Linked DNA regions of Homo sapiens: region 2 is linked to region 1. Evidence: fine-mapped expression QTL. Tissue or cell type: whole blood. Region 1 holds a variant in brackets; the other region holds the start of a gene. All regions are shown on one strand. Distances are from middle to middle. Region 1 overlaps MICU3 (mitochondrial calcium uptake family member 3). Region 2 holds the start of MICU3 (mitochondrial calcium uptake family member 3).

Evidence for each region.
Region 2: MICU3 starts here. The variant in region 1 is fine-mapped to the expression of MICU3 in whole blood (INTERVAL, PIP 0.95).

What each region holds. Positions count from the first base shown.
Region 1 is chr8:17,062,053-17,070,052 of GRCh38, forward strand. It overlaps MICU3 (mitochondrial calcium uptake family member 3), which reads left to right. Exons shown (of 15, transcript NM_181723.3): 2 at 2,032-2,185; 3 at 7,636-7,667. Among named protein-coding and RNA genes, the nearest start is that of MICU3, 39 kb to the left of the region's middle. The variant T/TAG (reference allele first, on the strand shown) is at 4,486.
Region 2 is chr8:17,022,208-17,030,744 of GRCh38, forward strand. MICU3 (mitochondrial calcium uptake family member 3) reads left to right here and starts at 5,031. Exons shown (of 15, transcript NM_181723.3): 1 at 5,031-5,453. The coding sequence starts at 5,073. RefSeq lists a silencer at 5,009-5,418 and an enhancer at 5,569-5,658.

The sequences.
Region 1 (8,000 bases):
TTTACTGTTAAATTAAACTCCGGGGCTTTAGTCTGGCATTCAGAAATCATTAGCTCACCATCCTTTTACTACACTTCTCCATGAATATGAATCCTCTGCCCAGGAAGATTATGGCCATCTTTCAAATATGCTGTAGAAACTCCACATGTTCATATCTTTTCTTGACATTAAAATTTATCATTTTTCCTGAAGCCTTCTTTTTAAGCCCAGCCTATGGCACCTTTCTTCTATTTGCTTGCATTTAACCCATTCCGTTTCTCTGTTTGTGCCTTTTGTCTCTCCAGCCAGCATTCTCTCTTTCCATATAGATTGATATTCATTCCTTAAAGACAGACACCACAACTTCCATTTCTTATGCCGTTAGAAGTGGGGAGCGAAACTTTTTTTCAGTTTTTATTTGACTACTCCTGTAATGTTTTGAGAAGTCTTAGTCTTCAGAATGATGGAAAAGATTAATCATTTGCCTGGCTTTTCGTTTAATAAGATGTAACTTAGAAATAAAGTAGTATTCTTGCCAAAAGTTTCTTTGGGTTGTTTTTGTTATGGCTTCTCAAGGTACTAAATATTTAAACAGTTTTTTCTTATATGAAATCATTTTATAAAATACGTGAAAGTATAATTTGTGTGTTACTGATAATCATGTAAATTGCTATAAACTCCATGAAGACAGTTTGACTAAAAAGTCTTCTTTGACTAATCAGTTTCACTCCTAAGGATTAAGGGAGGCTAGGCAGGAGAGTCGCTTGAACCTGGGAGGTGGAGGTTGCAGTGAGCTGAGATCATGCCACTGTACTCCAGCCTGGGTGACAGAGTGAGACTCTGTCTAAAAAAAAAAAAAAGAACTTATCCTGAAGAACTGTTATGGATATTTCTGAATATTTTCAAGGTTGGTCATTATACCATTGTTTTGTAATAGCAAAAGATTAGAAGTCAACATGAATAACCAAGTAGAATTGTTTATGTTATACTATAAACATTTTCTATGGAATATTATACAGTTAACAAAAATGGTCTTCTACAGGAATAGTGACACAGGAAAATGGCCCCGAAGTTTTAGTAAGTAAAAAGGTCAGATTACTGAATGATATATATGGTATAATCCCATTTTCTTTGCCAAAAGAAAGCAAAAACAATTCTATCTATAAATTTTTAGATTCTGTCTTCTAATTTTATACGGTAACTACTAGAATATTTAGTGACATAGAAAAATGGCCCTGATAATTGATAAGTGAAAAAGATCAGGTTATTGAAGCATGTATGGTAAAATCCCACTTTTTTGCCAAAAAGAAAACAAAATTATACTTAACAAATTTTTTACAATTCTGTCTTCTAAATTACATGTAAGAGCTTTGCATTTCTCTTGTAATCAGGAAAATAAATCCTTTTATTAAAAAAAATTGCTCTAGTTACTTCAGAGAGAAAATAACAATGGAATATTATCTACAAGGAAAGGTCTTGAAGGAAAAGAGACCCCTAAAATTCAGACCAATGATGGCCACTATACTGTAGTGATCTGGAACTAGCAATTTCACTTCTAATCTAAATATTACCACTAATGGTTTCCTTAGTGGTAGTTATAAGTAGCCTATTGGGATTTTACTTTATTCTTTTAGAAAATTAGTGGATGTTAGTGAATAGACTTGTAATTAAATACATTAGCCTATAAGAGTACATAGTAGGCATTCAGCAAGCGCTGGTGTTCCTTCTAAAAGTACCACTGGCTCCATAATTTAATGTTCTTTAAGACTGAAGCTTAAGAAATAAACCAAAAAAAAATCACAAATCACTTCTCCAAAGTGCCAGTTTAAAATCCTTAAGCTCTTAATGATATTTTTTGTAGAATCTTTCGAATATTAATTTATTTTATTTATGTGAATAATTTATTTATAAAGTGATTAACGTTTTTCAGAAGACGATATTTTCACACTTCCTCATTTACTCTGTTTATTCACTTTCAACATAATTAAAAGTATCTTCTAGAGGGAGGTATTACTTCACATCATCCAAATGTATTTGCTTTCTTAACTTTAGGTTGCTATTGGCAGAACAGACATTGAAGACTTAGACCTTTATGCCACATCTCGGGAGAGGCGATTTCGTTTATTTGCTTCTATAGAATGTGAAGGGCAGTTATTCATGACTCCGTATGATTTTATTTTGGCTGTTACAACAGATGAGCCCAAAGGTAAGTACACTTTTGAAATTATCTTAATAATTGTATAATTTTTTTATCTCTAGCTTGTGAATGGATGGAGCAGTATAAGTTTTTTAGAAGAACTGAGTAATGTGGTATTTCACATGATATTGTGCTATTCAGTGTTACAGACTGATATTTCTTACAAACTCTTACTCACATCTCTTCTCTTTTCAGAAACTTTCAATTGCTCCATCTTTCTCAGCTTAACACCATCTTACTTTTGATACTCTTTATAAAAGACTCATATTCTGCCTCTTCATTCTTATATCAAACCTGAACAGAGTAGTTCAGAGGACTGGCTTTGAGGTTAGCCCTGGGCAAGAATTCTACCTGTATCTCTTCTGCGTTTGTCATAGCTCCTGCAGTGTAAATATATTAATAGTTTCATTGTCTCTCACCTTTTCATATGTTAGAATAATGGTTCTCAAAATTTTTGGAAGTATGTACATTCTTGCAAATCTCTTAATATCTAACTTAACAGAAGACAGCTGTATTCTCATGTGTGCTTTTTTATTTGATCTGTTATAATATGTTGTTTTCCATGAAATATATGAAGAAAATCTACCTCACAGACATGGACAGTAAAAAAAGGAGTATTTTAATTGCCTTTTTAGATTATTATAGGTACTCTCCTTTGATACTGTATCACAATTGGCTGGTGGTAGTTGCAGCTTCAAAAGTCTCTATAGATGGTGGTAAAAGAGTAATGAGAACCGAGGATTTCTGGCTGGCTTACCTGGATGGATGGCACTAGGGACCAGGTTTGAGGAGAAAAATCACAATTTCAATTTTGGTCATGTCTATTTGAGATACCTTGGATATATAAAAGGATACAGTGTATTTTTTTAAAAAATAATTCATTTCACTTCACTGAAAGATCACTCACTAAAAATCAGTATAACAAATAATCATTTGTTCGACCCATATCTACTTTAAACTGTCACACAAATACTTTAACTTAGACTAGAACAATTATAGCCATTTTTTCCTCCAGAGACAGCAATATGGCAAAAATGAACCTTAAAATAAATCCTCAATAATTTGACAAATTGGCTACTTGACATAGTAACTTTTAATGAATTTTTGATTCTTTGGATTATTTCCACTGGATATCAAGGAAGAGATTCAGGTATATATTTAGGATTCATCTTTGCATTATTGCTAATTCATAGAATGTGTATGAATGAAATTGCCTAGGGAAGCTGTATAGGATGAGAATATAGATAACCAAAGACTAGGCCTTGAGGAATTTCTGCTCTTTAAAAGATGAATGGACAAAAGGCTTTGAAAGGATGAGAAAAGGGGACATAGGAGTGGCCAGAGACATAGGAAGAAAATCATAAGGGTATGTAGTCATGGAAGCCGAGTAAAATAGCCAGAATTGCCAATTGAGTGCAGTGTTACTGAGAATTCAAGTTAGATAAGAACAGGAAAATGTCCACTAGATTTAAAAACATGAAGGTTATTGATGGTTTTTTAAAATGATGTTTCAGTGGAGTCATTAGGGCAATTGCAGGAGTGAGTAGCAGATGAAGAAATGAAGACGATGAGTGTAAAGGACTCTCTTACAATATTTGATTGCAAAAGAGAAAGGAACTGAAAGGTAGCTGTAATGGAATTTGAAGTAGACACTTTTGATTATGCAAGATTTTAAATTAAAAAAAAGATTTTAACAAGAAACTATGAGAGTAACGTTTAAAGAAATGTAAACTACATAAGCAAAAACATGAAATCAAGACAGTATATGGTATAGTCATAGTAGCCACTTTGGGAATATGTAGGGCCATATAGTGATGGGAAAGGTGAAAAATTAAGTAGAGTTCTTTTTTTTTTTATTTACGAATTTTAAGGCTGTGATAAGTGTTATATCCTTTTTATTTAATCCATTTGGTACAATGTAGATTCTTTATTAGTGAGTTAGTATAGATTTAATACTAATTTGCTAATAAATATAGAGACCATGTTGTACCAAATCAATTAAATAAAAATGTATGGAATATTTATATGTCTGCTTCTGTATTAAGGTTCTTTTCTGTGTGCTAAGGGGGATACAAAGTCTGTGCACTCAGGAAACTTACGATATTATAAGACGACGTAAGATACAGAACCATCTCCAAGGTAGAATATGGTTACCTGGCACATGATAGGTACACAATAAATATTTCTTGAAGGAAGGAATTTGTTAGATGCTAAATGGTATTTTATATCAAATTCTATAATTTTTTCAAACATATTTGAAAGCTATTCTTTAAGTGATTGTTAATAATCTATATATATATATATATATA[T/TAG]ATAGATTTTTTTTTTTTTTTTTGAGGCAGGGTCTTGCCCTGTCCCCCGGGCTGGAGTTCAGTGACGTGATCACTACTCACTACAACCTCAACCTCCGAGGCTCAAGTGATCCTCCCACCTCAGCCTCCCAAGTAGCTGGGACTACAGGCACATGCCACCATGCCACCAGCTAATTTTTTAAATTTTTTTGTAGAGAGAGGGTTTTGCTATGTTTCCCAGGCTTGGCTTGAACTCCTGGGCTCGAGCAGTCCACCTGCCTCAGCCTCCCAAAGTGCTGGGATTACAGGCGTGAGCTACTGTGCCTGGCCACAGTTTCATATTTTGAAAAATTTTACTTCATTATTTTCTAGAATTTTTTTCTTCAGAATACATTCACTGGAAGCACACTGTTCGATTTTGCTTTTTGGAAATAACTTTTGTGGTGATTCTTCTCATAGATATTTTAAAACCATAACTTAAGAGTAAAAAACTGGTTTCTATTATAGAAAAGTTATACAGGATATTTTACAACCACAACTTCAGTTAATTTCTAACCAGCACTTTTCAAACATAATTAGGAACAATCACAAAAGATCAAGATATTCATAAATCCTGTTTTGAAAGTTGGGGTTTTAGAAAAGGAAAAGAATAGAACAATGTTTCATGTACTGAGTATTAAATCAGATATGTTAAAACTGTAGCGTAATGAAATTTGACTTGTGTTTAAACCTTGGCATTTACTGGCTTTGAAAACTTGGTTATTTAATCTTCTGTTTCCTCATTTATAAAAATAACAGCCTCATGAAGTTTTTCTTGAAGATCGAATGAATTATGGTTAGTATAGTACCTGGCACACAGTAAACATTTAATATTGGTATGTCATCATCATCGTCATCAGAATTCATAGCCATGATTTTTTTTTTTTTTCCCCAAGAGGAGACTCGCTCTGTCAACTAGGCTGGACCGCAATGGGGTGATCTCAGCTCACTGCAACCTCCGCTTCCTGGGTTCAAGTGATTCTCCTGCCTCAGCCTCCTGAATAGCTGGGATTACGGGCAGCTGCTGTCATGCCCAGCTAATTTTTGTATTTTTGCAGAGCTGGAGTTTCACCATGGTTTAACCATATTGGCCAGGCTGGTCTCAAACTCCTGACCTCAGGTGATCCTCCTGCCTCGGCCTCCAAAGGGGTGCAATTACAGGCGTAAGCCACCATGCCCAGCCCATAGCTGTGATAATTTTTAAGCAAATATTTACACGGCACACCATTTTTTTCGCTGTTTAAAATCATAGCCATTATTTTTGAAAGTTTTTGATATCATTTTATGATGACATTCAACAGGGAAAAAATGGTATGCTGTGTAAATATTTGCTTAAAAATTATAGATCAAATAAATGTTGAGATATCTGTTGATTATGATTTTGCATTATAATCTTATTTTGCATACTTAAATAGAACCTAAATGGTGACTTTCTTTTCTAGAACTAAAATCAGTAATTATTTTCCAACATAGCATCAAGAATTATTTTAATTTAGATTTTTAAAAATATATTAAATTTTTCAGACATACAAAAACGTATTAAAAATATAATGAACATCAACCTACAGCTTAAGAAATAATATTTCCACTAGAATTGAAGTCCTTCTTCACCTAAGTTATATTTATATGTGCAGTAACTTCATATGAAATAAGGAATTCAGAAAATCCTTTGAAGAGCAATCTTAATGGCTCTTTAGTCTTTATTTAAAAAGATAATAGTATTGAACATGGTGACATTTCCGACAGAATGAATATGTCTTTTGTGAATAATTTACCATGGAAATCTCATAAACCCTGCAAAACTCAAGAGTACCTCTAACTTCCTCTTCCGATAAATACCTTCTGAGCATTGCATAAGAGCACGTGCATGTACTTTTCTACCATTTATTTTTCTTCTTTCCTTACTGCTATATTTTAAGAGCAACAGAATAATAAATACTATTTGTATTGTTCTGTTCATTGTTAAAAGGGAAGTGTCTTTGCACCAGTGTCATAGTTAAGTTTACATGCTAAATTCTAATTTGTAGACCTGTGATTTGAATCACTTGATTACACATTTGTATCAACTATCTTGGATAGATGAAGGATGTTGTTGCTACATAAAGAAGAAATCTATCCTTAGAAACATATTTCTTCTCTTTTGATTTTAAATTGAGTTGTTTTGTTGCCTAATAAAGAAAAAACTACACAGCAAAAATTGCTTTTTTTGTAATTTTGAATTTGATATATTGTTAATTATACAGAAATAGCCCCATTGCCAGGTAGAAGAAGATGTTGGTTGGCATTATTGTAATGTAGCTGAAATAATTAATATTAACCAGTTTCCTAATACAGCTGTATTACAGGGCTTAATCAAATGTAAACCTGGTGCTAATTCTTAGGCAGGCATTAAATATTTACAGTGTTCAAATGTGAGCAAAGGAAATAGCAATACTGACTATACATTTGTCCCAACATTTTAAGTTTTACAGTGTTTGAGATCTTTGGGGGTGTGAGGAGGAATCACAAAAAGAAAGTGATCCCTGACATTTTATTCAGCTGTAACACTCTTACTCCAGTGATGCTTCTTGAATAGTTGTAGGGAAGAGTAATGAAACAGGACAAGTTTCCCCATCACTTTGCCTAGCCTCCCTTTCCTTTCTTTTTTTCTTTCCCCAATCCTTCTTCATCCTAGAGAGACCTGACCTGTGAATTACGTCATGGAACACTAGTATAGCAAAGATCACAAGTAATACCTTAAAATTATAGTTTATCTATGTTAATGTTATTTTATATTCTAGTTTGAATATTTTATAAGTATCATTATTTGTGCTTTTAAGCCCACAAGATGTTTAACATGGAGAAAGTTAGCTTACTTTATTAGTCCAGAAAGCCCAAATTAAGATGATACGGCTGTGGAGAAATGTTTCCTGTATCACTGATACTTACTATGAACAGTGCATAGTATATATGAAGCAAATAGATAACATATATAAGATCATATCACAGATCCAAATTTTGAGGTTAAAAGAAAACTTTGCCTTTTGGACATAAAAGTTTGGTTATGAGTTATGGTTGTAGATGGTTAGCAAATATGGATATATATTCCATGAAGTATTTATTATCTAATTATCTTACATTTGTTTATTTTAGTTGCCAAAACTTGGAAGTCACTTTCCAAACAGGTGAGTTAAAGCTCTTGGTAGATATACACAAATTTTATATGTGCATGCATATATACATATATAATTAAAATATATTTCATAAAATATATTATGTATTTTTATATATTTTATGATTTTTTGGCAAATCAAATCACATCAGAGTTCCTTTTTTTATCCTCCAGATTGTCAGAAAATAAAAAGGTGGACGTTTCTAAGGGCTGGTGAAAATGTAGATTACTGGTAAATCTCATGTGTTGGTATACTCACTTTGGAAAACAATTTGGCATTATCTACTAAAATTGGCGATATGCCTACCCTATACCTAGTAAATACATGCCTGCATTTAAATTCTGC
Region 2 (8,537 bases), 40 kb before region 1:
ACTTTGGGAGGCCGAGGCGGGCAGATCATGAGGTCAGGAGATCGAAACCATCCTAGCCAACATGGTGAAATCCCGTCTCTACTAAAAATACAAAAATTAGCTGGGCATGGTGGCGCTCGCCTGTAGTCCCAGCTACTCGGGAGGCTGAGGCAGGAGAATTGCTTGAACCTGGGAGGCGGAGGTTGCAGTGAGCCGAGATCGCGCCACTGCGCTCCAGTCTGGTGACAAAGCAAGACTCCGCCTAGAAAAAAAAAAAAATGGAGAGAGCCTTGGGGAAAACCTATGGCTTTAAGGCTCTAGTCCAGGAGGATACGGCCAAATCATAGTAACAGGATAACTTCAGTGCTAGAATCTGAAAATCACAAAATCTGTTCTTGAATCAAGCTTTCTGCATGATCATACTTTGTTGTCCACCCCCCTCCCCTTTTTTTAGAGGGTCTTGCTTTGTCACCCAGGGGCTGGAGTGCAGTGGCATGATCATAGCTCACTGCAGCCTCGAACTCCTGGGGCAAGCAATCATCCCACCTCAGCCTCCTGAGCTGCTGGGACTGCAGGCATGCACCACCACTCCTGGCTAATTTTAATTTTAATTTTTGTAGAGACAGGTTCTCACTATGTTTCTCTGGCCGGCCTTGAACTTCTGGCTTCAAATGATCCTCCTGCCTTGGCCTCCCAAAGTGCTGGGATTACAGGTGTGAGCCACTTCACCTAGCCCACACTCTATCTGTGATCCTTCTTTGCCAGTCCCTTGCTTTTTCCCTTTGGCCTCCCATCTGTGTTGATTGCATTTCCTCATTGATGTGCTGCTTGGTTTGTCAGCTTGTTTAGTGTCTGATGGGCCATTGTATTTCCTTGTCACCTAACTTGCCTTCCTATGTTGACCTCCACCTTCCCCCCTTTTCAAGACATTGCTTTTCATTTAGTAAATATAATTGAGGTCCTAATGTGTGCCAGGAACTGGGCTAGAAGATGCATACCCTGGCCTCATGTTGCTTAGAGTCAGCTTGGCTTTGCCTAATGGAAAAAGGGTGAGATACAGATCACAGTCTTTGGGAATGAGAGCTCATCAAAACAGAAAACAGACCCTCAGTGTCTTGTGTAACTTGGTTTCCATAGCCCTGGATGCTGAGGAATTGAGTTCTAGATTGCTGGTGGGTAGCACTTTGAAGAAAACAGAGCAAGAACATACCTTCCCCAACACTGTCTCCTATGTCAGTTTTGCCCTAAGGAAGACAGCATGGAAGGTGGAAGGCAATTTGAGAAAATGATGACAACTTTCCCAAGAGAGAAGAAGATGGTTGCAACCTTGCTCTCTGCTGGTAGACTTGAGTGGACCTGGGGATGGGGTGGTTCATGTGCCCTGATACAGATCTCAGATGTAACTGCTGCTCTTTTAACTAGTCAAGAATCTGGAGCTCAGAATGACCAAAATAAGGAATGCAGTATATTTTAATAGAAGTTTTGTTAAACAAGACATTCCTGCCTATTGCACTTATATTCCACTTTTTCAAACTTTTCAAAATCACTAACGTATTTGCAATTTTAAATGCAGTAGAAGGTTAAAATAATTAGATAAAGGAATGGATTTTTTTTTTTTTAAACATAGTCTTGCTCTCTCACCCAGGCTAGAGTGCAGTGGCTCAGTGATGGCTTACTGCAACCTCCTTTTCCCCGGTTCAAGCCATCCTCCTATTTCAGCCTCCCGAGTAGCTGGGACCATAAGCACGCACCACTATGCCTGGCTAATTTTTGTATTTTTTGTAGAGACGAAGTTTTGCCATATTGCCCAGGTTGGTCTCGAACTCCTGAGTGATCAACTCACCTTGGCCTCCCAAAGTGCTGGGATTACAGACGTTAGCCTGCGTGGTCCGGGGATGGAATTTTAAGTTGAAAGAATAAAACAATCTTAGGCCAATTGTAGATTTTCAGAAGAGAAATGATACATGAAAAATACCATGAAGTATCTTTCTATGGTTTACTGATACACTTGGAGCATTTTAGTTCATTAGAAAGATGGGTTCAGGGGTGATCATCTATTTCAACTCCACTATTTTAGAGACTGTGGCTTCCAAAGCATTATAATTAAGATGCAGCAAATCCAAGACTGGAGTCCAGATTTCTTCACTTCTAATTTATTACTTATTCACTGAGGTATATGCTTTCCTGGAAAACCCTTTTTGGCTTAATCCCCATTGTTTGAAACATTTTTATTGTTTCAGAACATTTCTTTTTATTTAGACCATAGTGAACGATAAGTGGATATTTCTTTCAAGGTGTGGGCTCTCACTGTGGAGTAGGGGCATTTTGGGGGTTATTCTTAATGCTCAGTAGAATTGACATAAAAGATAAGGGATACTGGGTTGACTCTATATTGATCCAACAATATTACCTGAAATTTCAAAAAAAAAAGGTTCCAAATTCCTAATATCATATTTTCTTAAAATTTTTCCTCTGGGAATTAAACTCAGAAAAATATCCACATAACAAGGGAATTTGGTTATTTTTGTGTAGCTATAGTTACAGAGCATCAAACGTGGGAAGAAAACAGTAACTATTCTTAAGGAAATTTCACCTTTAGAGGGAAAGTACTGTTGAAAATTATTAGTAAAGCTGTTTTTGCACGTGAGAGGTATTTTATCCAAAGTTCTCTGACTGATCTACAAACATAAACTTAGCCCTTCTCACAGCAGTACTTAGCTTCTAACCAGATAAATTGTTTGCAGGAGCTCTATCAAATTTAGAAAACTATAGAGAAACTACATAGAAATCTATACGTATGTGTCTGTATTTGTCATCTTAGATGAAGGATGTCATTTTCCTCATCTGTAATGTGATGTTATTGTATTACCTCCCTAATCTTCTTTAGAACTACTTAGCTTTTAACATGCAACTAGTAAAAATTGATCAGTTTGTCCAAGAATTCTGGCATTAGACTATAATAAGAATTTATGAGAAAATCAGGAAATCATGTTCAGTTCAAAGTAAACAGTGTCAGAACTATTATTATAATTTTTTTTTTTTGAGACAGAGTTTCGCTCTGTCACCCACGCTGGAGTGCAGCGGCACAGTCTCGGCTCACTGAAACCTCCACCTCCCGGGTTCAAACAGTTCTCCTGTCCCAGGCTCCTGAGTAGTTGGGACTACAGGCGCATGCCACCACACCTGGCTTTTTTTTTTTTAAGTTTTTTGTATTTTTAGTAGAGATGGGGTTTCACCGTGTTAGCCAGGATGGGCTCTATCTCCTGACCTCATGATCCACCCGCCTCGGCCTCCCAAAGTGCTGGGATTACAAGTGTGAGCCACCACGCCCGGCCAATATGATTATTATATTATATATAATATATATAATTATTACCCAGAAGATAATTTATTTGGGGAAACTACCATTTCACAGAATATAGAGAAAGCATAAATTGAGGAAAATTTGGTGATAAAGCAAGACGCTATCAGAGTCTTCCTTAGGCATTGACTCCATAAAACCCACAGGCTGAAACTGAAGAAAACTCAGAGACAGGTTTTAAAATACACAAAATTTGTTCATCTGCTACAGAAGATTTTTCTTCTTACCGCTTTTAGCAGCTTTAAGAAAGCAAAATGCCATTAACCTCTATTAAAATAAGAGGTAACAGGGTGTACCTGATGTGCTATTTACATGCAAGGTGTTAGGAATAGAAATTGCAGGACCTCCAGGAGTTCGAGGCCAGCCAGGCCAAGATGGTGAGACCCCCATCTCTACTAAAAACACAAAAATTAGCCAGGCACGGTGGCGGGTGCCTGTAATCCCAGCTACTCGGGAGGCTGAGGCAGGAGAATCGCTTGAACCAGGGAGACGGACGTTGCAGTGAGCCGAGAATGTGCCACTGCACTCTAGCCTGGGCAACAGAGCAAGACTCCGTCTCAAAAAAAGAAAAAAAAAAGGGAAGAAATTGTAGGACCTGAGCCAGAAAAAACTCATTTGGTCGTCTCTGAAAGCCTTTAGTCTTTACAAGAATTGCCAGAATCAACTGATGGTGTATTCTCTTGTCACTGCAGCCCAATTGAGACCACTGTATTTAGTTGTCTGTCCCCTTAGATCCACAATATTTTAGGGACTCCTGGCACCATTCCATAGTAGGAAGAAAAAGCTAACATAATTCAAGTTACCAAAACTGGGGTCTGGGGAGAGAAACTGATAGGAACTTCATCTACACTTTCTCATAAAAACTGATACTGATAACATAGCAAACAAAAAGTACAGTAAAAACAAAAAGATGACACAATACGCTTCTCATTTATTTTATATTTATACAAACAGCGCTTCCCTGAAAAATCAGGGTATCGTTCAAGATTTTATCTTTATTCACAGAAGTTTTAAAATTTTTAACTTTTATATGCACAAGACAGTTCTGATTTGTTGAATTAAGTGACCGCGGGTGTGCTAATGCTTCTAAAAAACAGCATTAGCCTTCTCCCATCAAAAGTCCGGAAGCTGCCCTTCAGTCGTCAAAGTGTTTGCCTTAATTTGCAATCGTTATGACTTGAGCCAAATGCTTATACCTCATTTGTGTCGTATATGTGAAGATACAATTGCAAATCGTTCACGACCTTGAGTCAAGACCTTGAGTTTCCTGAGGTCAGGAGACCGTTAGGGAATGTGAGTGTCCCAGACGGGCGCTGAGCCCAGCTCGGAGACCCACCCCGCCCGTAGCAGCGGCGCGGGCCCCAGAGAGCCCCGCACTCGGCCGCGCCTCAGTTACGCTGACTCGGCTGTGCCCGCAGTGTCGCGCTGTCGCGTAGCCAGGTGTCGCCGGGCTGGCGCGGTTATTTATGACTGCGTGGTTGGGCTGGGGGTTCGGGGCCGGGGAGCAGCCGGGATCCGCCGCCTCTTCCATGATCTTCCCGGGCCGAACCACGGGACCGCTACGCTGAAGGTGGCGTCGCGGGTCCCCGGGGCCGCGCGAGTGTAGGGGTCGCTCTCGGCCGGCCGCGAAGCTCGCGGCACCGACTTCTCGCGAGATTTCGGCGACCCCCCCCCCCGCCCCCGCCCCTCCGTTCTCTGCCCCCTCCCAGCTCTGGTGTGGGCGGCCTCCGCTATGGCTGCGCTGCGAAGGCTCTTGTGGCCGCCACCCCGGGTGTCTCCTCCACTCTGCGCTCACCAGCCCCTCCTTGGGCCGTGGGGGCGGCCTGCGGTGACCACCCTGGGCCTTCCTGGCCGGCCCTTCTCCTCCCGAGAGGATGAGGAGAGGGCTGTGGCGGAGGCGGCATGGAGGCGGCGGCGGCGCTGGGGGGAGCTGAGCGTGGCGGCGGCGGCCGGCGGGGGGCTGGTCGGCCTGGTATGCTACCAGCTGTACGGGGACCCCAGGGCCGGCTCGCCGGCGACCGGGCGACCCTCAAAGAGCGCGGCCACGGAGCCCGAGGACCCGCCCCGCGGCCGGGGGATGCTGCCCATCCCAGTGGCGGCTGCCAAGGAGACGGTGAGTGCGCGAGCGCGCGTCACACCTGCGCGGGGGATGTGACCTTCGTGCCGGGTACGCAGGACCCTGGAGGCTGTGGGGACGGTGCAAGCGCTGTGGCCGCGGGTGAGGAACTTCCCGTGAGCGAGGCTGACACCTAGGCCGGACAGCCTAGGATCCGGTCACCCACGTATTGGGAAGACCAGTGATGCTGTCCCTGATGCATCAGGACCTTAAAGGTGGCTGCAGCTACCAAGTATCAATCCAAACCCAAAACCAACACCCCTCCCCCTCTTACAAAAAAAGATTCAGAAATGAAGGCCATGACAGGCAGAAAGTGGACCGCTGTAGGTGTGGGAAAAAGGAACTCCTAGATTGCGCGGGGCGACAGCTAATGACCCAGGAGGTCTGTTGCATTAGAATGAGTTTCGAAGCAGCGGTCTGAGATCTCAAAAGCCACTACTTTAGCATATGAGAATTTATTAGTCCCAAGAAAGGAAATGCTAAACCTGCATGCTAACGCCCTTATCATACCCAGGGAATGTTGATGTTACCAGGTCTGAAAAGAAATAAAAAATTGTTCAAAAAGAGACATAAGTATTTCTCTCTTTTTCCTTCCCCCACTAAAGCCAGAATCCCGTTAGTAGGTAACGATAAAACACAAAATGGATAGGATAGCAAATGTAGGAGGCTGTGAATGACACAAACTCCTACAGAAGAAAGTCACGTGAAAATGTTCAACTGTCATTATGTAGTTAATAATACAAGGTAAAGATGTGTGAAAGGCAACAGTGAGTAAAGGAGCGTGATTTTTTTTGTCGCATCAGTATATTTAATAGTCATGTAAATGACTAGGAAAATTAAGGAGATTTTCCTTGCAAGGCTCGAAGAATGTGAACGGCGTAGATGAAAATAATTTAGAAAACAGAGAGCTATGCTGTTTCTAATGCAATTTTTATAGGCTTTGTTCTTAATACGCAGTGGTGATCTGATGTAAGTGCATCATTTCCTTTGGTGGAGGTTGTCAATGCAATTAGGTTACGGAATCTGCTTTATGGACTATCTAGCAGCAGATCACAAGCACATAACATAAAGTCCTTTTACACATGAATATTCAAAATACTAGGAAATACCCTCAAATCTCCACCCCCTCCCCCTTCACAAATACACATCCACTTTTGTGGCTTGGCAAGGAGCATAGCGTTTTTCATGATGGCAGAACTTTTAATTAACCATAGTTGGTCTAGGAACAGATCAGCAAGGTAGGGAATTCAAGTAGTATTTTCTTTTCTTTCTTAAAATTAATTTTACTTTTACAGTTGAGAGATGTTATCTTGCAGTTTTTAAAAAGACCACGTTCAGAAAGCTAGAACTTTGGCTCCACGACTTGCTACTTGTGTCATTATGGAGAAATTACTTGACCTGTCAATGCCTGTTTCCTCACCTGTGAAATGAGGCTAATAGTCTCCTGGGGTGTTATGAGAGTTAAATGAGTTAACACAGTATATTTAAAACAATGGTACTACTAAAGAACATTAAATAAATTTATTTTTTGGCTGAGCGTGGTGGCTCACGCCTGTAATCCCAGCACTTTGGGAGGTCGAGGCAAGCAGATCACCTGAGGTCAGGAGTTCGAGACAAGCCTGGCCAACATGGCGAAACCTCGTCTCTACTAAAAATACAAAAATCAGCCGGGTGTGGTGTTGGGCGCTTGTAATCCCAGCTACTGGCAAGGCTGAGGTAGGAGAATCACTTGAACCTGGGAGACAGAGGTTGCAGTGAGCCGAAATCACACCTCTGCACCCCAGCCTGGGTGACAAGAGCGAAACTCCATCTCAAAAAAAAAAATTATTTTTTATTCGTTTATTTATTTTGTACTTTTGTGCAGTTATTATTGCTTAGTGTTTATAAAAATTTCTGTTCATTGTTTTAGAAGTCAAATAATGTTAAAGTCCTGTGTCTTATGCTTCCCTAGCCTCTAGTCCTACTTTCTGATTGTCATGCCTTTTGTATTTCCCTCTCTGAAAACTTTTATGATCTGTTTATCCCTGGTGCTTGAAATTTTCACAGTAATGAGCTTCGGGATGTGTATTTTTTCACTGATTGTGCTAGGTTCTTAAGAGGCCTTTCAATATGGAAATCCGTGTCTAAAAAATTCTGTGTAATTTTCTTCTATTGTTTCTTTGATGATTTTTCTCTTCTCCCTCTTTCTATTCTCTTTTTCTGGAAATGCTGTTTCTTTGAAGTTAAATTTCCTGACAGATCCTAATCTAATTCTAATCATTCTTATATTTCGGTTTTAAAAAATATTTTCATCTGTTTATTTGTTTTTATAGCAGATATCCTGGGCTTTATCTTCCAACCTTCCTACTGAATTTTTTTATTTCTGCTATTCTACTTTTTTAATTCAAAGAGCGACTTTGTGTTCTCTGTTGTTGATGAGTTATAGCATTCTATTTTGCTTTCTATATGGCTGCTATATTTTCTCTTTTTGCTGTAAGGATATAAATTATAACTTTGTTTTGCCTTCTAAGGATATAAATTATAACTTTGGCCTTCTCTGTGCATTGCTTTGTTTCTTCCAGGTTCTTTTTTATTTCTGTTTGATTTTATAAGCTCTTGCTTTCATTTTGGAGGTTTTCCTCACATATCTGTGGTTGTTACCTGTCTCTTACTTGAGAACCTCTCAGAGGGTGTCTGTGCATAACATGTCCTTTCATCTGCACGAAAGGGCTTCTTATTAGTGTAACATCCAAATGTCAGTATTTTACAGCTCTTTTTCTCTGATGCTGTTGAGCGTCTACAAAAAATAGGAGAGATGAGAGGTGCAGTAGTCTTCTGGCAGCAGGCACATGTGCACATATATGTAACACCACTTATGTTGGTGAGTATTATGGGCTTCTTATTAGTGTAACATCCAAATGTCAGTATTTTATACCTCTTTTTCTCTGATGCTGTTGAGCGTCTACAAAAAATAGAGATGGGAGGTGTAGTAGTCTTCTGGAAGCAGGCACAGGTGCACATATATGTAACAGCACTTATGTTGGTGAGTATCTAATGATATACTTAGGTATTGTTATCTAATCCTCTGCTTTTAGCCCAACT